Linked DNA regions of Homo sapiens. The protein of the gene in region 2 binds, or shares a complex with, the protein of the main gene of each other region. Each region holds a gene or a part of one and is shown on either strand. Other genes may lie near its edges. The genes, in order: FBLIM1, FLNA, CFTR and ITGB2.

Region 1 (7,030 bases), on a different chromosome or scaffold from region 2:
CTAGGTTTCCCTCTCAGTTTATTAGCTTCCACCATACCCTTTTCCTCCAGCCGAATTTCTACTGGGTGGTCAATCATGCCTATCCAATGACGTCTCCATAGAAGGCCCAAGAGGACAGGGTTCGGGAGCTTTCAGGTGGCTGAACATGTGGGGGTTCCTGGAGGGTGGCACACTTGGGGAGGGAGGGCATGTAAGCTCCTTGCCCCTTCCCCTAGACCTCATCCTAGGCATCTCTTCACGTGTCTGTCTGTATCGCTGTAATATCCTTTTCTTTTTTTTTTTTTTTGAGACAGAGTCTCACTCTGTCACCCAGGCTGGAGTGCAGTGGTGCGATCTCGGCTCACTGCAAACTCCACCTCCTGGGTTCAAGTGATTCTTCTGCCTCAGCCTCCCAAGTAGCTGGGACTACAGGCACACACCACCATGCTCAGCTAATTTTTGTATTTTTTGTAGAGATGGGGTTTTACCGTATTGGCCAGGCTGGCCTCAAACTCCTGACCTCATGATCTGCCCACCTTGGCCTCCAAAAGTGCTGGGATTACAGGTGTGAGCCACTGCCCCCAGCACTGTAATATTCTTTTTTTTTTTTTTTTTTTTTTGAGACGGAGTCTCACACTCTGTTGCCCAGGCTGGAGTGCAGTGGCGTGATCTCGGCTCACTGCAAGCTCTGCCTCCCAGGTTCACGCCATTCTCCTGCCTCAGCCTCCCGAGTAGCTGGGACTACAGGCGCCCGCCACCATGCCTGGCTAATTTTTTTTGTATTTTTAGTAGAGACGGGGTTTCACCATGTTAGCCAGGATGATCTCGATCTCCTGACCTCGTGATCCACCCGCCTCGGCCTCCCAAAGTGCTGGGATTACAGGCGTGAGCCACCGCGCCCAGCCCAGCCCTGTAATATTCTTTATAATAAACCAGTAGACAGGAAACTCTGGCCCAGCACCCAGGACTCAAGCTCAGCTCCTTCACCCTGCTTGGGTCTCGCCCTGTCCCTGCACCCCACCCAGTGCACAAACCCTTCTCGTACCTGTAGAAGTCGTCCAGGCAGTACACCTCGTTCTGGCTGCCCAGGGCAAAGCTCTCATCCCCAATGCACCGGGCGCAGGTCACACACGTGAAGCAGGAGGGGTGGAAGGCCTGGCCCAGGGCCCTGATGATGTGGTCCCGGACCACCTCGCCACACTTGCCGCACCTCTCCAGTGTGTCCTAGGACAGAGGCCACTGCCAGAACCATCCACGACACACCCACCCCAACCCACGAGGGTCGTCTTCTTCTGAGAGGCTGCCCTCAGGGGCCCAGGAACTGGGAAGTACAGGAGAGGCCTGCAGACAACCTGTAACTATCGCCCAAAACCTCCACCATTGCTTATAACAAATTGAGCTTAGCCTTGCATCCTTGGCTTACAGCAAGGAATACTGCCCTGATGCCCTGATGCTATGGCTGCATTTCTTGTTACTGGGATATGTTTATGGCCAGGGTCCACAGAGCTATAGGAGAAACCTCGCTTAAACCTCAGGGTCAGGAAAAGGAATTCTCAGGAGAATTGGGTGCTTTATCATACAGACAAGAAGACTTGAAATTCTTTCCCTTTTCCATTTGGCCACTTGGAAGCTCAGAGCCAAATTCCACATTTCACGTTTAGAAACCATTATAGGGCTTTTTTGTTGTTATTTGGTTCTTGTTTTGTTTTGGGACAGAGTCTCGCTCTGTTACTGAGGCTGGAGTGCAGTGCCCCAATCTCAGCTCACTGCATCCTCTACTTGAGGTTCAAGTGATTCTCATGCCTCAGCCTCCTGAGTAGCTGGGACTACAGGTGTGCGCCACCACGCCCGGCTAATTTTTTGTAGACACGGTGTTTCACCATGTTGGCCAGGCTGGTTTCGAACTCCTGACCTCAAGTGATCAACCCACGTTAGCTTCCCAAAGTGCTGGGATTACAGGCGTGAGCCACCGTGTCTGGCTTCCTCACACATTTTGGGTAGTAACATTCCCTTTGATCTCGTCTCACTTTCTATTTTGATTTTCCTTCTGTTTGGATGTCTTTATTTTACATATCGTAGTATTATTGCAGTCTTTAAAAAATTGTTTTATTGTGGGAAGAACACTTAACATGAGATCTACCTTTTTTTTTTTTTTTTTTTCTGAGACGGAGTTTTGCTCTTGTCAATCAGGCTGAAGTGCAGTGGCGCAATCTTGGCTCACCACAACCTCGTTTCCCGGGTTAAAGCAATTCTCCTGCCTCAGCCTCCCGAGTAGGTGGGATTACAGGCATGCGCCACCACATCCGGCTAATTTTTTGTATTTTTAGTAGAGACGGGGTTTCTCCATGTTGGTCAGGCTGGTCTCGAACTCCTGACCTCAGGTGATCTGCCTGCCTCAGCCTCCCAAAGTGCTGGGATTACAGGCGTGAGCCACCGTGCCCAGGCTTTTTCTTTTTTTTGAGATGGAGTCTTGCTCTGTTGCGCAGGCTGGAGTGCAGTGGTGTGATCTTGACTCACTGCAGCCTCTGCCTCCCGGGTTCAAGTGATTCTCCTGCCTCAGCCTCCCAAGTAGCTGGGATTACAGGCACGCACCATGCCTGGCTAGTTTTTGTATTTTTAGTAGAGACAGGGTTTTTCCATTTTGGTCAGGCTGGTCTCGAACTCCTAACCTCAGGTGATCCACCTGCCTCGGCCTGGCATGAGCCACGGCACCTGGCCAGTTAACATAATTTTATATGATGCTTTAAGAAGAAATGCGCCAGGCAAGGTGGCTTATGCCTGTAATCCCTGGACTTTGGGAGGCTGAGGCAGGCAGATCTCCTGAGGTCAGGAGTTCCAGACAAGCCTGGCCAACATGGTGAAACCCCCGTCTCTACTAAAAATACAAAAAATAGCCGGGCGTGGTGGTGGGCAACTGTAATCCCAGCTACTTGAGAGGCTGAGGCGGGAGAATCACGTGGAATTTTTCAGTGCACGCATGTTATTGTGGTCTATAGGTATATATGCATTCTCTTTAAAAACATATTTTAATAAAAAAATAGCTATATTAAAATAGAGATGGAGTCTTGCTATGTTGCCCAGGCTCGTCTTGAACTTCTGACCTCAAGTAATCCTCCCACCTCAGCCTCCCAAAGTGCTGAGATTGCAGGTGTGAGCCACCGCGCCTGGCTGGTATACATGCATTCATAGAAGCTGCCTCAAATTCCTTCTGGAATGAGGAGCAATGACAAAGAGATTCCCGAGGCAGGGCAGTGGGCTTCCCTCTAGCCTTTCCACCTTTTCTCCTGGACATGCTGTCTCTCCTTCCTGGCTGTGCTCCTGTGCATTTTACCTTGACCTCACCTGGACACGTGTGGGGGCATCTCCCACTCCCCCCTCCCTCTCATGGGCATGGCCCTTCTCTCCCCAGCACACTGCTCAAGTCTTCCTCCTGGCTGCTTCCTGCTTCCAGCTGGACACCCCTCCTCCCCTGGTGTCTCACCCCTGAGGAACACTCCCCCATGATGTTGATGGGGTCACAGGGACACGGCAGGGAGGGCCTGGCTCCTCTCTCTTCCCACAGTGCCTCACTGGTGGTGAGCCTGGGATTGGATTGTTTGGATTCTTCTGGAGAGTCTCAGCTCCAAATACTCTAACCCTTCAAATCAGCCGTTTTCAAACTTCTATATGCATGAGAATCACTTGAGACACTGATTCAAAATGCTGATTTCCAGGTGTTCCTCATTCATAAGCACAAAGAGTGGCCTACACATCCCCAGGGGATGCGGCTGTGGGTGGTCACCACACTCAACATGCCACCACAAACCATCCAAGAGTTAGAAATTCCAGTGTGCTGGCATCCCAGCTGGCTCTCCCAGATTGCACTTGGTACCCGGAAGCAACACAGATTCCCGTGAGATCAAACATTGGAACCCTGTGGCTCTACTCTAGGGGAGATAGTGGCAAGACTGATGGCAGGCTCCAGAGCCAGATGGGTGTGGAGTAGAATCCCAGCTCCTTGGCCATCTCGTGTGACCTCGTGTGGTAGCTAAGAGATGCCCCCAAAGATATCCAGTCCTTATCTCTGGACCCCGAATGTTACCTTGCCCGGCAAAAGAGGCTTTCAGATGGGATGAGCTAAGGATCTTAAGATGGGGGAGATTATCCTGATTATCCAGGTGGGTCCTAAATGCCATCGCGTGTCCCTGTAACTTGACACAGAGGTGACAATAGGGCCGCTGAAGTGGGATGCTACACTGCTGGCTTTGAAGCAGAGGAAGGAGTCAAGGAGAATGCAGCTTCATAAACTGCAAAAGGGGCCAGGTGCGGTGGCTCACACCTGTAATCCCAGCACTTTGTGAGGCCGAGGGGGTGGATTCCTTGAGGTCAGGAGTTTGAGACCAGCCTGGCCAAAGTGGTGAAATCCCATCTCTACTAAAAATACAAAAATTAGTTGGGCATGGTGGCAGGCACCTGTAGTCCCAGCTACTCAGGAGGCTGAGACATGGGAATTGCTTCAACCCGGGAAGCAGAGGTTGCAGTGATCTGAGATTGTACGACTGCACTCCAGCTGGGGTGACAGAATGAGCCTCCATCTTAAAAAAAAAAAAAAACAAAAAAAAACAGGCTGGGCGCAGTGGCTCATGCCTGTAATCCCAGCACTTTGGGAGGTCGAGGTGGGTGGCTCACGAGGTCAGGAGTTCAAGACCAGCCTGGCCAAGATGGTGAAACCCCATCTCTACCAAAAATACAAAAATTAGCCGGGTGTGGTGTCAGGTGCCTGTAATCCCAGCTACTCGGGAGGCTGAGGCAGGAGAATCCCTTGAACCTGGGTGGCCGAGGTTGCAGTGAGCTGACATCGTGCCACTGCACTCCAGCCTGGGCGATAGAGTGAGACTCCGTCCCCCACCGCAAAAAAAAAGAAGAAGAAGAAGAAAAAAAGAAATTGCAAAAGGCAGAGATGTGGGTTCTCCCTCAAGCCTCCAGACAGCACACCACCTTGGTTTTGGCCCAGTGAAGCTGATTTTGGACTTTTGATCTCCCGAACTGGGACAGAATAAACGTGTACTGCTGGAAGCCACGAAGGTTGTGGTGATCTCTTACAGGCAGCCCTAGGAAACCAATCGCCTTCACTGGGCTCCTTCTTTCTGAGCCTCAGTTTCCTCATCTGTGAAAGGGGTCAATAGTGCCTACTTCCCAGGACTGTGTGGGGAATGAAATGGTGCAACATATTCTAAGTGCTCAGCTCACTGCCTGGCACCCAGAGGTCTGCTGCAGGGGTTACCTGGTAGCAGGGTTCGCAGAGGGGTCGCCCATCCTTCTGGTAGAAGCTCTGCCCAGCCAGCTGGCGGCGGCAGGTGCGGCACGTGAAGCACTGGGCATGGTACTGCCTCTTCATGGCCTCCACAGCCAGCTCTCGGGGGGACACGGTCTTGTGGCAGAAGGCACAGATGTCTGGGGTAGGGGAGACACAGGCCATCACCAGCCCAGCCTGTGAGGACTGTACCCAGGCACCACCCAGAACATGCTCAGGATACCCGAGGCTCTGTCTTAAACCCTGCAAATTCCTCAAATGACAAATACAGAGGGTCATGAGGAGCATTAAAAAGGAATCTGAGTCAGGCATGGTGGCTCACACCTGTAATGCCAGCACTTTGGGAGGCCAAGGTGAGCGGATCACTTGAGGACAGGAGTTCAAGACCAGCCTGGCCAACATGGTGAAACCCCATCTCTACTAAAAATACAAAAATTAGCCGGGCATAGTGGCATGCCCCCGTAGTCCCAGCTACTCATGGGGCTGAGGCAGGAGAATCACTTGAACCTAGGAGGCAGAGGTTATAGTGAGCCGAGACTGTGCCATTGCACTCCAGCATGGGTAACAGAGTGAGGCTCTGTTTCAGGAAAAACAATAAAAATTAAAAAAAATAAAGAGCCCGGCGCGGTGGCTCACACCTGTAATCTCAGCACTTTGGGATGCCGAGGTGGGCGGATCACAAGGTCAAGAGATCGAGACCATCTGGCCAACATGGTGAAACCCTGTCTCTACTAAAAATACAAAAATTAGCTGGGCGTGGTAGCGGGCGCCTGTAGTCCCAGTACTCAGGAGACTGAGGCAGGAGACTCGCTTAAACCCAGGAGGTGGAGGTTGCAATGAGCCAAGATCGCGCCACTGCACTCTAGCCTGGTGACAGAGCAAGACTCTGTCTAAAAAAATAAAAATAAAAATAAATAACATAAATAAATAAGGAATTCTGGACAGCAGTTTCAGGACAAAGGGATTGTTGGCTGCCTTGACCTCCCAAAGTGCTGGGATTACAGGCATGAACCACTACACCCAGCCAGGAGCCACTTTGTTTATTTATTTTATTTTATTTTTTTATTTTTTTGAGACGGAAGCTCACTCTGTCACCCAGGCTGGAGAGCAGTGGCGCAATCTCAGCTCACTGCAACCTCCGCCTCCTGGGTTCAAGAGATTCTCCTGCCTCAGCCTCCCGAGTAGCTGGGATTACAGGCACACACCACCACACCCAGCTAACTTTCGTATTTTTAGTAGAGACAGCATTTCACCATGTTGGCCAGGCGGATCTCGAACTCCTGACCTCAGGTGATCCACCTGCCTCAGCCTCCCAAAATGCTGGGATTATAGGCGTGAGCCACCACGCTCAGCCAGGAGCCACTTTATATTCTGATGTGTGACCAGCTCTGAGATGTACGAAGGAAAGAAAGTGAACAGCAGAAGAGCCTAGTTTGCTACTTATGGAAAAATGGGGGGAGGGAGCAGGTGGACACATATTTGTATTTGCTCGTATGTGCATAGTGTCTTTGGCAGGATACATGAGAGCTCAATGACAGAGGACACCCATCTGGAAGGAAACCGGGTGGTAGGGGGATGGGGCAGGTTGCAGGCTTCTCACTGTGTCCCCACTCATGCTGTTTATTTTGCACTGTGTGAGGGCATTAGGTGTTCAGAAAATAAAATAGTGAGAAAAAATTCAAGACATTTTTGCTATCATAGCAAACTGCAGACTAACATTTTAAATAGAATTTAGGTATAAAGGGAAAAAGGCTAAAG
Region 2 (7,000 bases):
AGGCAGGGGAGGCAGTTGGCCCAAGCCCGAGTAGCCCCGGGCCTGCCTCAGGCGCTCCCAGAGTGCCCAGCGCTGCTGCTACAGGGACAGTCTCTGGGCCTCAGGCATCTTAACTGCTATGGCCCAAAAGGGCTGCCTGCACCTGGCAGAGTCCAGAATGGAGACTAAAACATCCCACACTTCCCACATGACAACAGGCGCGGCCAGCCAGCTTGGCACCCATCCTCAGCCCCAGGGCCTGGCCAGCACTAGGAGGAGCTCACCGGGGTGATCTCAAGCTTCTATCCTATACCTGCCCCATGAGAATATTACAGGTGGGGAAACTGAGGCACAGAAGGCTTTGGTGACGTGCTCAAAGTTAGCAGCAAGTGCACGTCTGGGGAAGCCTGTGCCTGTCACCACCATCCTAAGGTAGTCACAACCTTAGCAAACCAAAGACAGGGGCCCTGTCCTTCCCTGCCCTCCTTGGTGCAGCTCCGCAGGGAGATCAGACACCAGCCACCCGCAGCCCACACTCCAGCCGCCCAGGCCCCCCTGCCTCCCCTGCCTGTGCCCGGAGCTCACCGTGATCTGGACAGCCAGCAGGCCCTCCCCGGCGTCCTTTGCATCGATGGTGAACTCCACGGGCAGGCTGGCAGGCACGCCAGTGGTGTTGAGCCCGGGGCCACTGGCCTTCACCTTGCTGGCATCATGAGTAGGCAGCACCTTGACCTTGAAGGGGCTGTGAGGGATTGGTGTTGTGAGCAGTCAGACAGGTTCTCAGCATCCAGCCTGGGCCACTCCCCACAGGCAGCAGGCCCTGCCTCTTACCTCCGGGGTACCTCTTCATCTCCATACAGTACTGAGATGCTGTAGGGCCCTTCTCGGCTGGGCACATAATTGACGGTCTGGGTGCCATCAGCGTTGTCTACCACGTCCACTGGCTCCACCAGGCCTGGCCCCAGCCCCAGGGACAGAGCATCAGCTAGTCTCCTGGGCCTCCATTCCTACCCCACCACACTGGACGGCCAGGACCCAGCCCCAGGCCTAGACCTCGCTTTATCCTCATCCACCCGACCCTGGGAATGGCCTTGACCCCCTCTGGCACGAAAGACACCCATCTGGGTGCCAGCTGGGACCCTTGCCTGCCTGCCTTCCTGCCACATCTGCTCAGTGACCAGTCCCATCTGCTCTACCTCCTCCAAGTCCCCCACCTGGCTGCACTGTCACCTGAGGCTCTTCCAAAAACACCTACACACTTGCACCACCTCTGCACTCTGGTCCTCACTTTGGGCCTCCAGTTTCCTTTCCCGGCCCTCAAACAGGACACTGCCCTCCTGACCCCTGGCTCCAGGCATGCAAACACTCACCTTTGGGCCCTTGCACTTTGACCTGCAATGGGGCCACACCAGCCTTGCTTGTGTCCACCTGGAAGGACTGAGGGAGGTTGGCACGAACCATGCCTGGGCTCAGGCCGGGCCCAGAGCACTTGACCTTGGACGCATCTGTCACATCATGCACAGGGACCTTGAAAGGACTGCCTGAGGGTTGGGGCAAAGGGATGGCGGCTGTATGAGACAGGGTGGGGACGAGCAGACAGTCCCAGCCCTGCCCTGGCCGCCACCTCCTCACCTGGCACTTGATGGCCACCATAGGTGACGTTGAGGCTGTAGGTGCCAGCCTCATAAGGGATGTACTCGACCGAGCAGCTGCCGTCCTTGTTATCCATGCAGGACATCTTGGCCTCGGAGGGGCCCTCTACAGCCAGGCCCAGGCCGCCCGTGCCAGCTCCCCTGGTCCAAACAGACAGCCGGTCATTCCTGGGGTTCCCAGGCCCACCAGCCACACGGGCTCCTGGGGGCTCCCTTACCTGGTCTCCACAGTGAACTTGTTGGGCTTGTTGGTGGTGCCACTTTGGATGCCTGGCCCGTGGACACGCACCCGGGAGGGGTCGCAGCCCTCGGTCACGGGCACCTGGAAGGGGCTGCTGGGCACGGGACTGCCGTCATAGGTCACGTCCACGGAGTGCAGTCCTGGAGGAGTGCAGGCCAGGTCAGGAGGAGCCCGGGCCACCCCACCCACCCCGTCTGCCAGCCTGTGGGAGTCCCCAGCACGCACCCTCCTCGTAAGGCGTGTACTCCACTTTGTACATGCCATCGCCACGGTCCTGAACGTAGGTCTCCGTCAGGTTGCCTGAGGGGTTGGCCACACGGGCCTTGACGTGCGGCCCTCCGGTCTGTGTCAGAGCCCGGGCGTCCACACTGAACTCAGTGGTGGCCTCACGGAAGACACCTGCAAAGGCACAGAGAGGAGGCTTGGGGCTCGGGGGTTCTGGTCCCTGTCCCCCGTCACATACCCCACGGCAGGGCAACTCACCCTGGCCCTCAATACCAGGCCCATAGCACTGGACACCGGAAGTGTCCACCGCAGGTTCCACCTGCAGCTTGCTGGGGAAGTTGGGCACGGGCTGGCCGCCGTACTTGATGGTGACGGTGTAGGCCCCGGGGCAGAGGGGAATGTAGGTAATGGTGTGCGTGCCATCACCGTGGTCCTGGATGTACACCTCGGCCGGAAGCCCCGCCTCCGAGCAGATCTCAATGGTCAGCTCCGCGCTGCCCGCGCTCGAGCAGTCCACTTGGAATTGGCCCACCTCCCCAGCGGTGGCCCGCTCCAGCCCGGGGCCTGAGCACTTGACTTTGGATGCGTCAAAGCAGGGAACCACGTGGGCCTTGAATGGGGAGCCAGGGATGTGGGTGTCAGCGAAGAGGATGTTGATGTTGTAGTCCCCGGGCTCGGTGGGCACGTAGGACACGGAACATGTGCCATCCCCATTGTCCAAGCACTCGAGCTGCGCCTCACAGGGGCCCTCCACCGTCAGGCCCAGGCCACCTGTGCCGGCGCCCTTGGTGTCGATGGTGAAGCGGGCGGGGGAGCCCGCACTGCCTCCCTGCAGCCCCGGCCCAAACGCCTTCACCTGAGGGAAGAAGGGGTCAGGAGCCAAGGCCACACTATGCCCCGATCCCAGACCTCCTGCTTGACTTTCCACCTGCCTCCCCTTGCCCTGGCTTCCTGCCCTCACCAAACAGGGACACGGGCGGGCCCAGGCTGCCTGCCAGATGGGCCATCCATCAGTCATAAGGACAAAAAGGAGGGCAGGGCGCGGTCACTCACGCCTGTAATCTCAGCCCTTTGGGAGGCCAAGGTGGGTGGATCACCTGAGGTCAGGAGTTTGAGAACAGCCTGGCCAACATGGTGAAATCTCGTCTCTACTAAAATTACCAAAATTAGCTGGGCATGGTGGCGGGCACCTGTAATCCCAGCTACTTGGGAGGCTGAGGCAGGAGTATTGCTTGAAGCCAGGAGGCGGAGGGTGCCGTGAGCCAATATCGCGCCACTGCACTCCAGCCTGGGCGACAGAGTGAGACTCTTTCTCAAAAAAAAAAAAAAAAAAAAAAAAAAAAAAAAAGAAAGAAAAAAAAAAAAAAGAAATTCTTCAACCCTGATGACTTTTTGTGGGTTTCTATTTCCCTCCTCCCCTTTACTCTCACTTAAACAGGGTCAAGGTTGACAGTCTGTCTCAGGAAAAAAAAAAAAAAAAAAGGATTTAGGGCAGGTCTGGAGAAGATGGGGTACCTTTGGGGCCCTCAGAGAGCACAGTGGGTTCTACCCTTAGGGCCTCCCATACCCCAATTACCTTGCTAGGCTTGGTGGGGGCCACAGCTTCCAGAGGAAAGGGGCTGCCAGGCACGGGCACGCCGTCATAGGTCACCTCCACCTCATAGGGCCCTTCCTCACGGGGCAGGAAGCGCACCACACTGTTGTCAGCCCCCAGGCCTGGCTCCACCTTGCAGGGCACCGCTGCACCCGAGGGGCCCACAATCTTGGATGCCACTTTGCCTTGACCACCAGCACCCTTTGATTTGACTGTGAACTCCTGGTCTTTGCCAACGTCCACCTCTGTGGAAACGATGAAAGGAAGGAGAGAGACATGACACCCAGCTCAGCCAATCCCTGGATGTGACAAAGGCCTTTGCGACAAGGGCCCCAACTACTTACTCTCTCCCAGGCCAGACACCTTGATCTTGCTGAGGTCCAGGCTTGGAGATACTGCCACTGAGAAAGGGCTCTTAGGGATGGGATCCCCTCCATAAGTGACATTGACGCCTACTGGACCCTGGGAAGGGTGCAGAAGGGAAGGGGGTATTTAGAGACACCAGAATTGCTCCCCAACCCCCTCCTGGACCTCCATGCCTGTCCTCTCCCAGGTAAGGAATGAGAGTGGGCAGAAAGTCCCTCGGAGCTGTCCCCTAGGCTGCTGCATGAGGAGGCTGGGGACTCGGTGACTGTAGTGGAGGGTGTGGCTACCTGCTGGACAGGCGTGTACTTGACTGTGTAGGTGTTGTCATGGTGGTCGATGATGTCCACATCTCGCACTGCATCCCCCTTGGTGAGTCCTGAGAACTGGACGTCCAGCTTGCCTTTGCCAGCAGCTTTGGCATTTACTGTGAAGTGGGTGGGCTTGCCAAGCTCGACACCTGAGGAACACACAGGGACCATGTAGGGGCACCCTGCCCCAAGCCCTCCTACCCTTGATGCCCCGCAACCTGCCATGGGGTACCTGTCCTCACCAGTGCGACTGAGGCCAGGGCCCTCGGCCTTCACCTTACTGGCGTCATGAGAGGGCTCCACCTTGACTCGGATGGGGCTGGTGGGCGTGGCCTGCAGGCAGTGGGAGGAGAAGGCCTTAGAGGAGGGCAGACGTCATCCGCAATGACATCTTAGCGGCCAGGAGCGCAGCACCCACCTGGTCAGCAAAGAGGACCATAATGGTGTAGCTGCCAGCCCCCCGGGGCGTGTACTTGACCGTGAAGGTGTCATTGTCATTGCGGATGATGTCGAAGTCGATGTCAGCTTCGGCGGGGCCTACCACTCCAGGGGCACACTTGATGCCGATGCTGACGTCCCCTGCGGCGGGGAGAGGAGCGGAGGCTGAGACCTCGCAGGGACACCCCAGCCACCTGCCCTCCCACCCACAGCCAGGCCTTACCCTGGCCAGCCTCGGCGCAGTCCACAGTGAAGTAGGTGGGCTCGTGGGCCTTGAGCCCTGTCTTGGCTACTCCGGGGCCGTATACTTTGACCTTGTTGGGGTGGCTGCCAGCTCCCACATTCACCTGCAGGGCACAGGGGCAAGGGCAAGGGCATGAGCAGCCTGGAGGAGACTCAGAAGCTCCCTCAGCTACACTGGCAGGCACACAAAATGGTCCAGCTGCCTTGGGAAGAGTCTGGCAGTTCCTCAGTTGACCACAGAGGGACTGTGTGATGCTCCGGTTCACTCCGAGGCAACTACCCAAGAGAAATGAAAGCAAATGTCCACGCAAACACCTGGACTCACTGTTAACAGCACTGTTCATGATCACCAAAGGCAAGCTCATCCTCAATATCTGTTAGCAAGTGAACGGAAAAATGGAATGTGGTCTGGCCACACAATGGAGTATTATGCGGCCATAAAAATAAATGAAGCGGCCGGACGTGGTGGCTCATGCCTGTAATCCCAGCACTTTGGAAGGCCAAGGTGGGCGGACCACCTGGGGTCAGGCGGTTGAGACCAGTCTGACCAACATGGAGAAACCCCGTCTCTACTAAAAATACAAAATTAGCTGGGAATGGTGGCGTATGCCTGCAATCCCAGCTACTCAGGAGGCTGAGGCAGGAGAGAATTGCTTGAATCTGGCAGGCAGAGGTTGCAGTGAGCTGAGATCACGTCATTGCACTCCAGCCTGGCAATAAGAGCAAAACTCCGGCTCAAAAAAAAAAAACCAGGATGGGCGCGGTGGCTCATGCCTGTCATCCCAGCACTTTGGGAGGCCGAGGTGGGCAGATCACAAGGTCAGGAGATCGACACCATCCTGGCTAACACAGTGAAACCTTGTCTCTACTAAAAATACAAAAAATTAGCCGGGGGGGTGGCGGGCGCCTGTAGTCCCAGCTACCCGGGAGGCTGAGGCAAGACAATGGTGTGAACCTGGGAGAAAGAGCCTGCAGTGAGCCGAGATCGCGCCATTGCACTCCAGCCTGGGCGACAGTGTGAGACTCCATCTCAAATAAATAAATAAATAAACAAAATAATTATAAAGGAACAAAGTGCCAAGACATGCCAAACATGAACGAAAACACGGAAAACTTCGTGGTGAGCGAAAGAAGCCAGACACAAAAGGCCACATGGCACACAGTTCCATCTATAGAACATGTCCAGGATAGGCAAAGCCACAGCAGAAAGCAGGTTAGTGGTCACCAGGAGCTGTGGGACAGGGGAGTCAGGATGGTGTGCCACAACCACTTGAAATGGACGAATCGTGTGCTACGTGAATGCTATCGAGATGGACTAAAGGCCGGTGGAGGTTGGCTCACCCTGAAGGGGCTGTTGGGGATGCTGACGCCTCCCCAGGACACCATGGCTGTGTGCTTCACCGGCTTCCTGGGCACGTAGGAGCAGCTGTAAGTGCCATTGCCGTTGTCCTTGACCAACGCCTCCACAGGGCAGCCTTCATTGTCCTGTCAGGCAGATAGGAGCAGGTGGCCTGCTGGTCAGTGCCCAGGCCTGGGTGCCCACACCTGCCCTGCCCCCAACACCCGTGGGTGCTCTACCTGGACTTGGACCCGAAGTGGGGCCTTGCCACCGTGCTTGGCATCCACTGTGAACTCTGCTGGCTTGTTGACGGCCACACCTGTCTTCTCCAATCCAGGCCCACGTGCCTTCACCTAGCGGGAGACCACCCAGCTGTCAGGGGGCCAGGTCCAGGCTGCCAGAGCTACAACCCAGGCAGGGTGGCCAGGGACACAGAGTGCCATCCCCACCAGACCCCAAGCAGGAGCAGCAGGGCGAGACTTAGGCCATCACAGCCTGCTCTTTACCCTGTCTGGGTGGAAGTCCTGGGGCGCGTCACGGATGTCAGCCATGAAGGGGCTGAGGCGGATGTCTTCGCTGTTGCACAGCACGTGAACGGCATACTCGCCAGCCTCC
Region 3 (7,030 bases), on a different chromosome or scaffold from region 2:
GATGAAGTAGAATATGAGATCATTTTCTAAGGATACAAATGGCTGGAATGGGGACACAAGGGAAGATCAGGAACAACCAAGATGGGGGAAGAATTAAGTCAGTGGTTTTCACACTATGAGCCCCAATACCTAGTGTTCTCTAGAAATATTTCAGTGAATTCACCAACTTCTGATTTGAAATGTATGTATTTTAAAATATTATTTTATAGACAGGAACCAAGAAAATCACACATTCTCAAATGTAGGACTATATGTTAATTTTAGCACACTAGATTGATCCGAACATGATCCTGGGCTGTCAGGCTTGTTTAGTATTCACTATGTAGGAAAGCTTCTGCTGACATCTCCTTGCACATATTTAAACCTGTTATGATCTGTTATTGGTTATCTCTGCACTGCATTAGTGAGCATGTCACTACACCATATGTGGGCCAAGCTCAGTTAACAGCCCATCATATCTTTGACATACCTGTTTGCATGAGGTTTCATCACAGCATAACAGAGTTGTACAACACTCAGGGAACAATAATAAGCCACATATGATATTATCATGGTTTTATAATACTTTATCATGCGTACTTGCTTTAAGGTGATATTGGTTATAGAATTTACCATCAATTTAACAATAGCCTTTCCAAAAAGAAGCACTACATTAACTATACACAGTTTTTAGAAATTAACAATATTACATACTTATTCATGCAATCACCTACCACTTTCTTCTTCAGCATCGTAATTAAAGTTTTAGTCTAAGCGTTCTTCATATTCAGAGCAAAAATATTCTTCTGAGTCACTCTCAGCCTTTCAGAGCTATGAATAGAGTTACAGTGACAAACTGCATTCATAACACCTTCACCTGTAGGACAGGCAGTATAATTTCAAGGCATAATAAAGTGCTGAGCTTAGGCGACTTCTACTTTAATTACATTGCTTAGTATGTCAGACAAACTTCAGACTAAATATTACCTGTTTTTTTTTCAAAACTACATCACAAAGTAATTTATCCCAAGAAATTTCAAGCAACAAACTAAATTTATTTAAGAGTCAACCTTGTGGGATGCAACCAATGCAAATAATTCAGCTGAGGTCACAGGAGTATATATACCTTTATGTATTGCTAAGTTCCCATATTACAACTTATTCCTGGGCCTTGTGGCTGACAAGTTTCTTTTGACATCAATTATAAAAGGCATCTCGATTTCAGAAACATAACACTGTGAAAAACACAACCATGTAGGATCAAGAAAATTACATATAAATGTTATACAAAATCACTGTAGCCTTTACTTTAGAGCACTAGGTTAACTGTTTCTTTGTATTTATGGGAGAGTTATTATCTTTTATTGTCACTGCTATTTGTATACACTGCGGTCCCATGGAAAATTTTATTTGAAAATTGATTACAGTATTGTTTTTTAAAAAAATTGTGAAAAACATTGCCCTGGGAAAATGCAAGACACAAGATAGATAAGATAGAGCCTTTGCCTTGAAGGACACATTAAAAGATGCATATTCCAAAAAAAGAGGCAATGAAATGGTCAACAGAGACTTATAAGTCAAAAATTATTCTGGACAATAATCTAATAACTGTTAAGCTACCATTTTCTTCTTCTGAAAAGTCCATTTTGCATGTCTAAATGTTTCACTTACTTTTAAAATTATTCAGTTACCGAAAAAAAGTTATAGAAGACTTAAAATTTTTTCTAGATTTTATTTTAAACTAAGAAAGACTAAAAACTGTATCTTTTAAAGCATATTGCAATAGAATTTAAATAAAGAATATTTTGCAACATGTAAAAGTTATATGAAATTCAAATTTTAATGTTCATAATAAAGTTTAATTGAAACACAGCCATGCTTATTTGTTTGCATATTGTCTATTGCAGAGACTTATGTGGCCCACAAAGCTGAAAATATTTACTATCTAGCCCTTTACACAAAAAAGTATAGCAATGGTCTTTGGTCGAAAAAGTGATGCTTTTGTGTTGGTATTGTTGTTTTAATTTCTAGAGTTTATAGAGATGTTTAAAATAAATAAAACGTACAAAGGGAGCCCCCTATATAGTTTCTCCACCTTGCTTCCTCTAGAACTGTGGTTGCTAATCCCAGCCAACATAGGCTTCATTTTCTTGTCACACCCATAACCAATGCTGGACTCTAAGGTTTAGCCCTTGAATCACCTCTTAATACAGCTGTCAGTACCCCTGGGATTCTGCCTATTATGCTTAATTTTCACACATTTGTCTGACTGGTATCAAATGAAATTCTAGAGTCCCTTTTTGAAATTATTAAGCCTTCACTAGGCATTTGGGAGTAGATGTGAAGTCAGGTAGGAGGTAGTTGCACCTCTGTAGTCCATGCTAAGAAAGAGAACTCTGCATATTTAACAAAGCTCAAAGTTTTAACATAAAACAAGGATACATAACCTTTTCAAAAGTAATGAAAACCTTCTTTTAACACACACAGAAACCTCATCATAGTAGGTGAGCTCCTATTTTTATTCAATCACTGGAGACAATATCTGAAGTCCCAAGCAGATTTTCATACCACATTGAATTTCTATGATCTCTCATATGTTGTGTCCCGTGATGTGAAAAGCACTGCCTAAAGGAGTGAAGTTATCAGGAGGTTCAGACATCAGTTAGCAGGTTATATAGGAGAGTTCTAAGTATAATTTCTAAGTAGAATTTAACCAGTACTGTCCCTAGAACTCAGCTGCTTCTTCCTAACACTCTCAGGTCACACTATGCCACAATAAGGCCAAACAAGTGGGCACTCTACATATTTATAAAACTGTCACCTCAGACATCTTATATCTCTTACCTAAGACTAAGCTCTAAATCACTTTAATACATTTTCAAATAACCATATTACCTAACCCTGAGCCATATACATCATTTCCGTTTCTGGTTTTGAGAGAAGTAGAGTCACATAGGTCTGCACTCCTGCTCCATGCCTTCTTCTCCGATTAAATTTTCTCATTCAATAAGCAGCACCACTGTCCCCTCTATTATCCAAATCAACAAATATAGATGTTATCCTTAACTCTTCTCTTTCCTTCACCTTCAACTACTAATTGATTACCAAACCAGTTGATTTTACCTCCTAAATGTCTTTCAAATCTCTCTCTCTCTCTCTCTCTCCCCGCCCCCTCCCCCCCACCCCACCCACCTCCACCATGGCCACTCTTTCAGCTCATCTTTTCTTTTACAAAACTGCAACAGTATATGAACTGATTATGTCCCTCTCCTGTTTAAAAGCCATGGCTTTTCACTTCCAGTATGATAAAGCCCAAACAAAGCCTACAAAGCCTACAAAGCCCCCTTACGATCTGGCCCCTGCTAGAGTTTCCAGACCCATCTCCCACAAATCTCTGTCACATATTTTATGTTCCCGTCATAGGGAACTTCTCAGGATATTTTGAAGGTGCCATGCTTACTTATCCTGTCAGTCCTCCACACTACCTGTTTAAATTTTTCCTAGCCCATCCCTACCCTCTTTGGATAATTCTAATTGAATAACCTCCTTTAGGTGTGAATACAAAAGACACTTCCCCCAGCAAGCCTTCCTTGACCAGCCTTAGACTGGGTTAAGTGCCCCAGTTGAGTACTTCAATGAAGCCCTCGAGAAAGCTGGGTTTCAGATAATTTGTTCCATAAAGGCAGCAACAATTTCCTTCTTGGCCACCTCTACCTTCTTAACGTCTCACATAGAATACAGAATATGAATGAGGTCATCTTCCAGGTTACCCAGAATCATGACCTACAAAGGAAGTACTGCTGTATCTCAGCTCCTTGGAGCAAGCTATGGGAGAGTTTTCTGGCTATATCCAGGCATAGCTTCAGGCCTGAGTAGTCCTAATAATCCTACGGACCTAGCAAAAATCTTCATTTCCTTACCCCATGAGCAAGAAATTAGCAAGCATGCTATCCTACAAAGGCTAAGGCAGAAGGGACACAAGAAAACTTCGATGGAATAATTGTTCTAAGCATTAAAAATCTGCCCACAGTCCCACTTGCTTTGACCCCTTTTTATCAAAATGATGCCAGCACTGCAGGACTGTTGAATGTCATCGATCTACAATAGACACAGGTCTCTAGGGTTGATCACCATGAACTCATTAACATCACAAAAAAATCTTTATTAAATTGTTCCACGGAAGAGTCTTGAAATGGTCTGAATATCATACTAAACAAATTAGAAAAGGCCCTGACATCCAGAGCTTTACAATTTGGAATCATAATTTATGTCAAAAGATAATAATAAGTTAACAGAGCTGCACAGAAAAATAGCAAAGTTGACAAGCCTTGCAACTTGAATACAGCTGTGAAAAACTCTGAAAAAAGATTTTTCAGAGCTCTGTAGGAATGTAATTCTCTACATCAAGCAATCTAAGAGTAAATTAAATTTTTACAAGCTTCTTGCTAAAAGAAGCCTAAGCTCTTTGCTGACACAATGCCCTACAGTAAAGCCGTAAAGCCACTCTGTAATGCTAATTTCACACTGAAACAACTATGTGGTAAATTGATTCTAGAGCTCTGAAGAGAACCAACAGAAATAGCAATGTTTTCCTCCATGATAATGCACTTGACATATTTGTAAATTAATCTTTCTACAAGATCTCCAAACAACTTGATCTTTATCATAGTCTGTTTTCCCCTTTTGACCTCATTGCATCTCAGAGGTTTTTCTCCAGGAAGATGCCCTACACAGATGCCTCAGGATCAAAATTGCCAAAATTGCTGCTGAGTCAGAGATGTTTTTAACGTTTTGACAACCAACACATAACTGCATGCTAAATAGTTAACACCCTTCCTGATGGTTTTGCAATACTATACTTATATTGTAGCTCTATCACACTGAAATTATAGGCTCTTGTGAAATGACACTAGCAATAATAATGCATTTTATAGCAGTACTCACTCAAGGACCTTTAAACAAGTGTTAACATTTATGTATTGAATATTATTACACTAAGTTCCACTCCCTCCCATAACACATAAATGGAAAACTGGAAAACCGTGATTTCCCTAGTGTAACAGTTAGCTCTGAGGGATATTTTGACTGTCACATCAAACATAAAATATTGATGAAGTAGCTAAGAAAAATAGATTCCACTTCTCTCTTTAGCAAGGAATTAAATATTAAAACTACACTATTCCTTATAAGTATATAAGAATATTACTTGAATCAAGTGATTAATAATTTAACTAGCATATAAAAAACTATAGGAATAAACTTCAAAACAAAGGAGAACTTTTTAAAATTTGCAAAATTAAAAGAAACAATTATATAATTATATATACAAAGATATTTTACATATACAAAGATATTTTATATATAAATAAATGTAATTATAATTTTTGTCATATATCAGGTACAGGAGGTACTTTTAGAACTCTGAGAGTTAAGCTAATCAAAATTAATACAAAATTAACACAGATTCCCAGCTGAAAAATCTCAACTGTGTAATAACAAAACATGGTCAGCAAAAGGATAAATAGAAAAGACTATTGAGGGACTGGTGTAGAAAGTCAACATTTGTTAGTGTTCAGACAACATTGTTCAAGACAGAAGGGCTCCTATCCCAGAGGTGGGCCCCTCCAATTCCTATAGGATGTAAAGCCAAGAGAGAATATGGAAACCCTGGGCTGTCCTCATTGATGGCATTTGCCCATGGACTGACTAAATGGAGTCATGGTAATCGGGAATGCTTGGCAGTTGTATATCACAATATAATTGTTCAACACATATTGGCCTTTGTTTTATGCATCTATTTTATTTTGATTTGGATAACCTAAGGTTTTTCTGATAGACAAACCTGAGATAATGTGTATGTATTGATCAGACCTAGACTAAACCCTTGTTTGGGTAGCCAACTGGTCTTCCTTGGCAACACTTTTACAAACACCCTCAACAAACTGCAAAAATATTTATGGCTTAGCCATAATTTTAGCTTTCCTCACAAATTGCAAACATGTAAATAAAATGTAAATACAAAATCATCATGATGAATTTTTAATAGTGTATCATAATTTATATAACCAAATAAGTGTGGTCCCATTCAAAATGGTCATCTTTATAAATCTTTCATAGTATAATTTTAATTATACTTCCATTGCTCAAAGCACTTATATTTCTCTTCATTAAGCACTGTCTTTAGGCTGACAGGGTGAGGTGGCTTACGCCTGTAATCCCAGCACTTTGGGAGACTGAGTGGGAGGATAACTTGAGGCCAGGAGCTCCAAGAGCAGCCTGGGCAACATAGTGAGATACTGTCTCTATATAACTTAAAAAAAAAAAAAGTTAGCCAGGCATGGTGGTACACACCTGTACACCTGAAGACCCAGCTACTCGTGAGGCAAGATGGAAGGCTCACTTGAGCCCAGGAGGTGGAGGTTGCAGTGAGTTATGATTGTGTCACTGCACTCTAGCCTGGGCAACAGAGTGAGACTCTGTCTTTTAAAAACAAACAAACAAAAGAATTGTCTTTAAAGTTTGCAATGCATTTTTTTTTAATGAAAACACCTAAAATTAGGTAGCACTTGGCTGTTAACAAAGGAAATTATGATGAAAAATCTTTATATTTTCAGAGTGAATTTGATTTTGTGATACAGTCAAAAGTCACTTGGAAGCAAGTCCAAGAGACCAGTCTGGGTAATATAATTTTTAATCTAAAGCAAGCTATGAATATAAAACAATAACAATAAAATAATGTGGCTAATATATACTTATGAGAAGAAATTTATGTATTATTTAGAAAGGCAATTTCATAATAAGAGACCCAAAATTATTTTGATCAAAGGCAAATGTTTAGAATAGGAGTGTGGTTTTTATTAGATAGCTATTTTGAACCACCATACCTATTCTGATATATAAATTCAGGTGTATTTGTTTGTTTTAAAATCTCTCATTACTTTGTGTTTAATAATTACAAAAGTATCTCAAATTATCTTACTGTTAAACTCGAGACTTAGACTATGTGATTCTTTGCTGAATTTCCACCTTAGATCCTAACAATATTTTACTC
Region 4 (7,030 bases), on a different chromosome or scaffold from region 2:
CCTTTCTGTTCCACTCGTTGAATGGTCCAGAACGCACCCCCCAACACCAAGTCTGTGCCGCAGGACGGCCGTTGTCCAGCAGGGACCCACGGGCTCACCCGGGCCGCCGCAGACCTGGCCGTTGTAGCGCTCACAGTTGATGGTGTCACACTCGCAGTACTGCCCGTATATCAGCTTGCCGGGGACGTCGCTGGTGTGGCACAGGCACTGCCCGCAGACACAGTCCCCCAGCCCTGAGCAGATGATGGAGTTGTTGTCCTTCCGGCAGCTTCCTTCCAGCTCCTGGCTGCTCCGGCCCTGTGTCTGGCACTCACAGTTTTTCCCAATGTAGCCAGTGTCACACCTGGGGACAGGAGGGGCCCCAAGGTCAGGCTCCCCCCAGTGATGTGGGACAAGGGACAGCCGCCCTGTCCTCCAGGCCCCTTGCCCTTGGTGGAGAACACCCCTATGGCACATTTTGCTTTCCTCGAGGCCTACTGAGCACTTGCCACGGACTAAATGTGCTCAAAACGTGCAGGGGCCCCGCGTTCCCTCCCCAGGATGTCCCGAGGGGAAAGCAGACACCTGGCCTTGGCCTGCGCATGCAGTGGCTCGGCAGGCTCACTGTGGAGCTGTGTTGCAGCCATGCACATGGCCTGTGCTGCGATACCGGTGCTCTGTGAGTGGCTGGTGTCTGCTCCTGCGTGCCCCACATGGTGGCCAGTGGGGACTCGGCACTGCCTCCTGCCACAGCCCCGCCCTCCCTCCTGCGTTCGTGCACTGACAGGCCAGGTTGTGGGAGAATGCAGGGACAAGGGGTTTTTACAGATGTGGAAGCTGGCATCAAGCCGCTGGCAGGCAGGAGCCACACACACCCTGAGGCATCCTCAGAGACGGCACTGCCACGGGCTCTCCTGCTCCCCAGAGGAGGAAGCTGCAGGACCGAGTGTCTGAGTACCTGTGGCAGGGCACCCCCCGACACCTGCCAAGTGTTCCGACTGAGTCACCCCTACAGTCCCGTGAAGAGGCCGCCCCAGGGCTGCACACCCAGGACAGTGGGCGGGGTGGCCACTGAGGCACGAGGACAGCAACAGAGACCACCAAGACCACAGAGACCATCATTGTCCTGAGATATGGGAGGAGGCTGGGGGCAGCAGGGACCTGAAGGTGAGGAAGGGCACTGCCACCAGGACGTGGATTGGCACTGCGGTCAGGACAGGGGAGGAGGTGACCAGAGCAAAGGGGGCAGAGTCCTGGGAGGTCAGCCTAGCAGCTCTGGCCAGGCAAGCAAGGAAAGGGGGACAGCCATCCAGCCCCCGGGCAGGCCGCCTGGCTGAGTGCCATGTGAACCTCCCCACTGGGTCCACCTGTCCCCCACTTCTCCCTGAGGTGGGGTGCCCACGCCTGGCAGGGGGTGTGCACGCCCAAGAGGTGGCCTATGGGGCCCAGGCTCCCAGAAGCCATCACCTGTCCCAGGAGGCTCTCTAGCCACCCATGCCCCAGGGCTGCCAGCCTGATGGCCTTGGGTCCCCAAGGTCAGAGAGAAGCCAGCTCCTAGGGTCAAGGAAGGTCGGGCAGAGAAAGTGACCCACTCAAGGCCATGGGCACGCCCAGCGGGGACTCCTTGTGCCCCTGAGATGGGCCTCCATCCTCTGGTGAGGGGGTCCTCCTGCCCACAAGTCCCCTGCCTTGGGTCCTCCATGGCCAGAGAGTGTAGAGTACAGGCTGGCATTGCTGGTGCCCTGGCTCAGGAGCACGGGTGAGGGCTTGCCGAGGGGTTCTGGGTTCCAATCCCAAATCTCCCCACCTCCTGCAGAAGGGGGCCCCCAGGATGCCTGCTCCGTGGGGTGGGGGAAGGGATGGAGCCACCTGCACCCACCTCACCTGCCGACACCTGCCCTGTGGGGTGGGGCTCGGGGATGGTTCAACAGGGACCTGCGCCCGCCTCACCTGCAGATGCCGCACTCCAAGAAGCCCTTGCCATGGCAGAGGCTGCGGTCTCTGCTCTGGTCCCGGCACCGGCACTCACACTGGGGAAGAACCTGCACGGTCACTATGTCCGTGAAGCCCAGCGCCCGGATGACAAACGACTGCTCCTGGATGCACTCTGTGGCCGTGACCTTCACCTGGAAGGTGATCTGCAGGGCAGTGCTGGGCTCAGGTGGGGACCCTCGGTGGCCAGGGTGGCAGCCCAGCTCCCAACCCTCACCTCCTGGCCTCTGCAGGGGTCCTGGGGGGTTCAGCGTGGGGAGGAAGGGGTGACCAGGAGCAGGAAGAGCTGATGCTCAGATCCGAGAGCCAAAGTCAGCCGGCAAGGAGGTGCTCTGCCCGCACTCCCGCACTGGCCGGCACCAGGATCTCCCCGGCCACACATCAGCAGAGACATGTGACACGCAGACAGCAAATCAGGAGAAGCTGAGCACACTCCCACTCAGACCACCCAACATGAGGGAAACGTTCTGGTGAGAATCCATGGGACAGCTGGGCGCCGCGGCTCACGCCTGTAATCCCAGCACTGTGGGAGGCCGAGGCGGGTAGATCATCTGAGGGCAAGAGTTTGAGACCAGCCTGGCCAACATGGCGAAACTCTGTCTCTACTAAAAATACAAAAATTAGCCGAGCGTGGTGGCACACGCCTGTAGTCCCAGCTACTCAGGAGGCTGAGTCAGGAGAATCACTTGGATTGTAGTGAGCCAAGATCGCACCAGTGCACTCCAGCCTGGGCGACAGAGCGAAACTCCATCTCAAAAAAAAAAAAAAAAAAAAAAATCCACAGGCAACATTTACCAAGAAACATGTTTGAAGGAATTCCAAAGTCATATTAAGAAAATGCAATGAAAGCAAGTGTCTTGCTGAATATTATTTCACAGCTAGCAAAAAAAAAAACAAAAAACAAAAAACAAAAAGAAACAACAAATGATTGGATAATAAACTTAAACCTGAAAGATTAGAGAAGGAACTCAGTGTCCATTCCTAACCACCTGTGTGGCCCATGCCTTAATGTTTCTGTCAAAAAAACAGAATGAAACACGCAGAAAATCATGACAACTAACCCTACCCAGGTTTGCCGTTTGCGCCTGTTCTGTGTGTCCGGCGTCTGCCCCCAGGGGGCGCAGCCATCACTCCATCCCTCAGTCTGCAGTGGCCTGACCCAGGGATTTGGGCTCCAGGTTGATGAGTAGGACTCTTGGGGGCCAAGGCGTGTGTGAAGAACCCTCCCAGCACCCTCTCACTGAGAAGCACCCTCTCGGCACCCTCTCACTGACGTTCCTGACATCAGCTTCACAAGGAAAGCGTCTGGCCTCGGCAGAGAGGATGTGAAGGAAAGAAACAGGGTCCTTCCAGTGGATGCTGCCTGCTCCCAGACAGCCTCTGATGCCTGTGTGCCCCTCCCTGCCCCCGTCAGAGTGCTGGGATGGGGACCCTGGCTCCTTCTGGCTGTCCCCAGGACCCCTCAGTGTGCTGGGATGGGGACCCTGGCTCCTTCTGGCTGTCCCCAGAGCCCCTCAGCAAGCTGGGATGGGGACCCTTGTGGCCAGGCTCACCGGGACATTGATCTGCACGCCATCACAGTCACCTCTGGGCTGGTTCCTGTGCGTCACTCCATTGCTGCAGAAGGAGTCGTAGGTGACTTTCAGGGTGTCGGGGAGGGCGTTGTGATCCAGGAAGACCCTGGAGGAGAGTTTCTGCGGGCAGAGAGCGGTTACTCTTGGGGGCGAGTGTTTCTGTTGTCCTGGCCCTGCCTGGCCCAGCGGTTTAGACCCGTCTCCACTTCTCCTCTCAGTGCAAGTCCCCAGTGTCAGCTAATGACACAGAGGAGAGCACAGCAGGATGTGCTGAGGATGGCAGGGCTGCCAGGGCCACAGTCCTGCCCTCGAGACAGCCTGACCACAGGGACTAGCATGGAGCCAGGGTGTGAGCCTCAGGGGTGGGAGCTTCTGCTGCTCCTCAGCCTTGAGTCCCCAGGACCTAGCACAGGGCAGGAGCTGCATAAATTGTTCAAGCGATAAGAGAGATGGGGAGAAACAGAGAGAGGCAGAGACAGACAGAGATGGGCAGAGCCAGAGCCAGAGACAGAGAGATGGAGAGAAACAGAGAGAGGCAGAGACAGAGACAGACAGAGATGGGGCAGAGACAGAGAGAGACAGACAGAGAGAGACAGAGAAAGAGAGACAAAGACTGAGAGACAGACGGAAATTGAGAGGAGGCAGAGGGACAGGTTCATAGGGGCATCGGGTGAATGGCCAGGGCAGTGGCGTCACCTGCATCCTCTGTGTAAGGACAGAAACACCTCGGGCAGTGGCTGGCACCCAGGAGGGTCTGCTCTGGGGGTTTGGGGCTCACGGGAGGCTACGAGAAGCAAATGGCACCTCCTCCACGGGCCTTCAGTTTAATTCAATGACCCAACGTTTGTCGGAGGCGCTAACGTGCTGAGCTCCCTCAAGCCAGCAGGACCTTTGGCCTAGAAGGATCCAGGCCAGAATTCTGAGAACATCTCTCACCTGGGGGTAGATTTCCAGAGCAGTCGGGACCTCTGGTGCCTGGGGCCCTGAATGGCACCTAGTGCGCACCTATGCCTACCTATGCCCACCAGGGCCATGGGCTCCCCAGGGGAGCAGCCCAGGGTGCAGCTCGATGGGCCGTGCACCAGGGAGAAATTCAGGGGTTAAGGGCTTCTCTGGAGCTTGCCCAGGACAGGTGAACAGAGCAAGAGGAATTCCACCCCCCAGGGTGTCTTCCCAGGGCCCAAGTCCACTGTGGGGGTTTCCTGTGGCCTCCTCCTGCCCCAGCTGCACTGTTTGCCACCAGAGCTGTCCACCTCCCTTCTCCATAGAGACCCGCAGAGAAGAGTCTGGAATGAAGAGTCCGGAGCTCAGGTTTCAGGGAGCATCGCCCACAACATCAACGAGAGAGGACCCAGAGCTCCCCGTGGAAGTGCCGGGCCAGGGTGTCCTGGAGGCCTGAGGGCAGGTCGGGAGGCTGCAGCTGGCCCACGGGGCAGGGGCTTTCCTCCCAGACCACCCTCCTGCTGACCTGCAGCAGGAGCTGACCTGCAGTGGGGAGATTGCTGGCCACCCCATGGGTCCCAGCTGAGTGGTGCGGGAGACTCACATTGTAAGCATTCTTAATGAGATGGACCACATTGCTGGAGTCCTCAGACAGCTCCCCCACGGCTGACTTGGGGATGATCTCGGTGAGTTTCTGTTGGGCAAGAAGACCAGACATGGCACGGCTAGGACCTGTGCCACGGCATCTCCACGCACTGGGCTCACCCCAGGGGCTTCTGCACCTGCAAAATGGCTGGGACGGTCCTCAACGCAGTTTTGCACTTGGTCCCCAGAGTGTGTGGTCAGTGATGTGTGGTAAGAGGTTCTTGGGGGTAAAAAGCCCTGAGCTGCCCAGGGGCCACGCCTGGAATACCAGTACTCGGGAGGCCGATGTGGGAAGATTGCCTGAGCCCAGGAGTTCAGGACCAGCCTGGGCAACATAAGAAGACCCCATCTCTACAAAAAGTACAAATATTAGAGTGGTGTGGCGTCACATGCCTGTAGTACCAGATACTCGGGAGGCTGAGGCAGGAGGATCACTTAAACCCAGGAGGTGGAGGTTGCAGTGAGCTGAGATCGCACCACTGCACTCCAGCCTGGGCGACAGAGCAAGACCTTGTCTCAAAAAAACAAAACAAAACAAAAAAAACCCAGGCCAGGCATGATGGCTCACGCCTGTGATCCCAGCACTTTGGGAGGCCAAAGTGGGTGGATCACTGAGGTCAGGAGTTTGAGACCAGCCTGGCCAACATGGTGAAACCCCGTCTCTACTAAAAATACAAAAATTAGCTGGGCGTGGTGGTGGGCACCTGTAAGCCCAGCTACTCAGGAGACTGAGGCAGGAGAACCCAGGAGGCGGAGGTCGCAATGAGCTGAGATCACACCATGGCACTCCAGCCTGGGCAACAAGAGCAAAACTCTGTCTCAATAAAATAAAATGAAATGAAATGAAATGAAATGAAATGAAATAAAAAAATAAATAAAATAAAATAAAATAAATAAAAAATAAAAAAAAAATTACTGTTGCATCATGAGGATAAGAAAAGAAAGCAAAGCCCTGAGCTGCAGCATTGTCCAGGCCTGCCCGTGTGAGTCCTCCTGCCTGCGGTGTGAGTGATCCCGCCTGCGGTGTGAGTGCTCCCGCCTGCGGTGTGAGTGATCCCGCCTGCAGTGTGAGTGATCCTGCCTGCGGTGTGACTGCTCCCGCCTGTGGTGTGAGTACTCCTGCCTGTGGTGTGAGTGATCCTGCCTGGTGGATTTCAAGCTCGCAATATCACTGGGTTGGGAGGACGTGCATGGTGGCCAGTGTTGGCCAGAATTTCCACCACACAGGTAGGGAATTCCTACCACCACACAGATGGTAGGCGGAAGTAGCCCCACGAGGGTGGATCACAGTAAAATCACCAGGAAGCCATCGGCTCTTGGCACTCTACTGAGTTTCCATGGGTGTTAAACAGCCCGGTGACATCGGTTCTGGCCGGCCAGATGCACAGGGGCGCAGCCAGCCTCCCCCATGCTCACACATGCTCAGCTTCTTTCATGGAAGATTGCGGCATCATTTCACCTTCCAGGAACACGGAGCAGATGGTCGGGTCACCTCCCCGCCCAAACCCTCCCATGACTGCCCTGCATGGGCCCAGTCCCTTCCATGGAGCTCCTGGGGCCGGTCACAGCCTGGCCACCACCCTCCTCTGCGCCCTCCGCCCACCGCCCACTTCCATCCGTCCCAGTCTGGGGCCATCCCTGTCTTGGGAGAGCTGGGCCCTCCCACATCCTGTCCTGCTGAGCCTGCTGTGCGCTTGGTGCAGAAACACACTCGGAGGGGGCGTGGCACGTGTGTCCACACTCGCTGCCTGTTGCCTTGACCACCCCCGAAGGTGACCAGGAAAGGCTGAGGAAGGCTTGTGTGCCCCAAGGCTCAGCAGTAGGCATGGGGTGCACTCTACCTGCCTCCAGTGCCTGGCCCTGGTGCCACACCATCGCCTGGAGTCTGGCTGCCATGA

The links.
Region 1: the proteins of FLNA (region 2) and FBLIM1 are in contact, whole or in part, in a crystal structure (PDB 4P3W), measured with the Homo sapiens proteins. Residues at the interface, in NP_001104026.1 of Homo sapiens: Met2207, Gly2208, Thr2263, Arg2264, Gly2267, Ala2268, Gly2269, Gly2270, Leu2271, Ala2272, Ile2273, Ala2274, Val2275, Glu2276, Gly2277, Pro2278, Ser2279, Lys2280, Ala2281, Ile2283, Phe2285, Cys2293, Glu2306, Phe2311; in NP_001337080.1 of Homo sapiens: Lys7, Arg8, Val9, Ala10, Ser11, Ser12, Val13, Phe14, Ile15, Thr16, Leu17, Ala18, Pro19, Pro20.
Region 3: the proteins of FLNA (region 2) and CFTR are in contact, whole or in part, in a crystal structure (PDB 3ISW), measured with the Homo sapiens proteins. Residues at the interface, in NP_001104026.1 of Homo sapiens: Thr2263, Gly2267, Ala2268, Gly2269, Gly2270, Leu2271, Ala2272, Ile2273, Ala2274, Val2275, Glu2276, Gly2277, Pro2278, Ser2279, Lys2280, Ala2281, Ile2283, Ser2284, Phe2285, Asp2287, Phe2311; in NP_000483.3 of Homo sapiens: Ser10, Val11, Val12, Ser13, Lys14, Leu15, Phe16, Phe17, Ser18, Trp19, Thr20.
Region 4: the proteins of FLNA (region 2) and ITGB2 are in contact, whole or in part, in a crystal structure (PDB 2JF1), measured with the Homo sapiens proteins. Residues at the interface, in NP_001104026.1 of Homo sapiens: Val2241, Thr2263, Ala2266, Gly2267, Ala2268, Gly2269, Gly2270, Leu2271, Ala2272, Ile2273, Ala2274, Val2275, Glu2276, Gly2277, Pro2278, Ser2279, Lys2280, Ala2281, Ile2283, Phe2285, Phe2311; in NP_000202.3 of Homo sapiens: Leu753, Phe754, Lys755, Ser756, Ala757, Thr758, Thr759, Thr760, Val761, Met762, Asn763.

Annotation. Positions count from the first base shown.
Region 1 is NC_000001.11:15,768,791-15,775,820, reverse strand, and holds part of FBLIM1 (filamin-binding LIM protein 1), read right to left. Parts: intron 5,413-7,030; coding exon 5,243-5,412; intron 1,204-5,242; coding exon 1,025-1,203; coding exon of another isoform or gene 790-1,024; exon of another isoform or gene 600-789; intron 1-599. UniProt on the Homo sapiens protein: Serves as an anchoring site for cell-ECM adhesion proteins and filamin-containing actin filaments. Is implicated in cell shape modulation (spreading) and motility.
Region 2 is NC_000023.11:154,357,635-154,364,634, forward strand, and holds part of FLNA (filamin-A), read right to left. Parts: coding exon 6,892-7,000; intron 6,739-6,891; coding exon 6,625-6,738; intron 6,532-6,624; coding exon 6,388-6,531; intron 5,151-6,387; coding exon 5,027-5,150; intron 4,945-5,026; coding exon 4,784-4,944; intron 4,699-4,783; coding exon 4,608-4,698; intron 4,515-4,607; coding exon 4,345-4,514; intron 4,154-4,344; coding exon 4,036-4,153; intron 3,937-4,035; coding exon 3,674-3,936; intron 2,954-3,673; coding exon 2,356-2,953; intron 2,272-2,355; coding exon 2,098-2,271; intron 2,013-2,097; coding exon 1,850-2,012; intron 1,773-1,849; coding exon 1,612-1,772; intron 1,521-1,611; coding exon 1,350-1,520; intron 935-1,349; coding exon 811-934; intron 722-810; coding exon 565-721; intron 1-564. UniProt on the Homo sapiens protein: Promotes orthogonal branching of actin filaments and links actin filaments to membrane glycoproteins. Anchors various transmembrane proteins to the actin cytoskeleton and serves as a scaffold for a wide range of cytoplasmic signaling proteins.
Region 3 is NC_000007.14:117,483,010-117,490,039, reverse strand, and holds part of CFTR (cystic fibrosis transmembrane conductance regulator), read right to left. Parts: intron 1-7,030. UniProt on the Homo sapiens protein: Epithelial ion channel that plays an important role in the regulation of epithelial ion and water transport and fluid homeostasis. Mediates the transport of chloride ions across the cell membrane.
Region 4 is NC_000021.9:44,889,880-44,896,909, forward strand, and holds part of ITGB2 (integrin beta-2 isoform 1 precursor), read right to left. Parts: intron 5,182-7,030; coding exon 5,092-5,181; intron 3,666-5,091; coding exon 3,525-3,665; intron 2,118-3,524; coding exon 1,930-2,117; intron 344-1,929; coding exon 99-343; intron 1-98.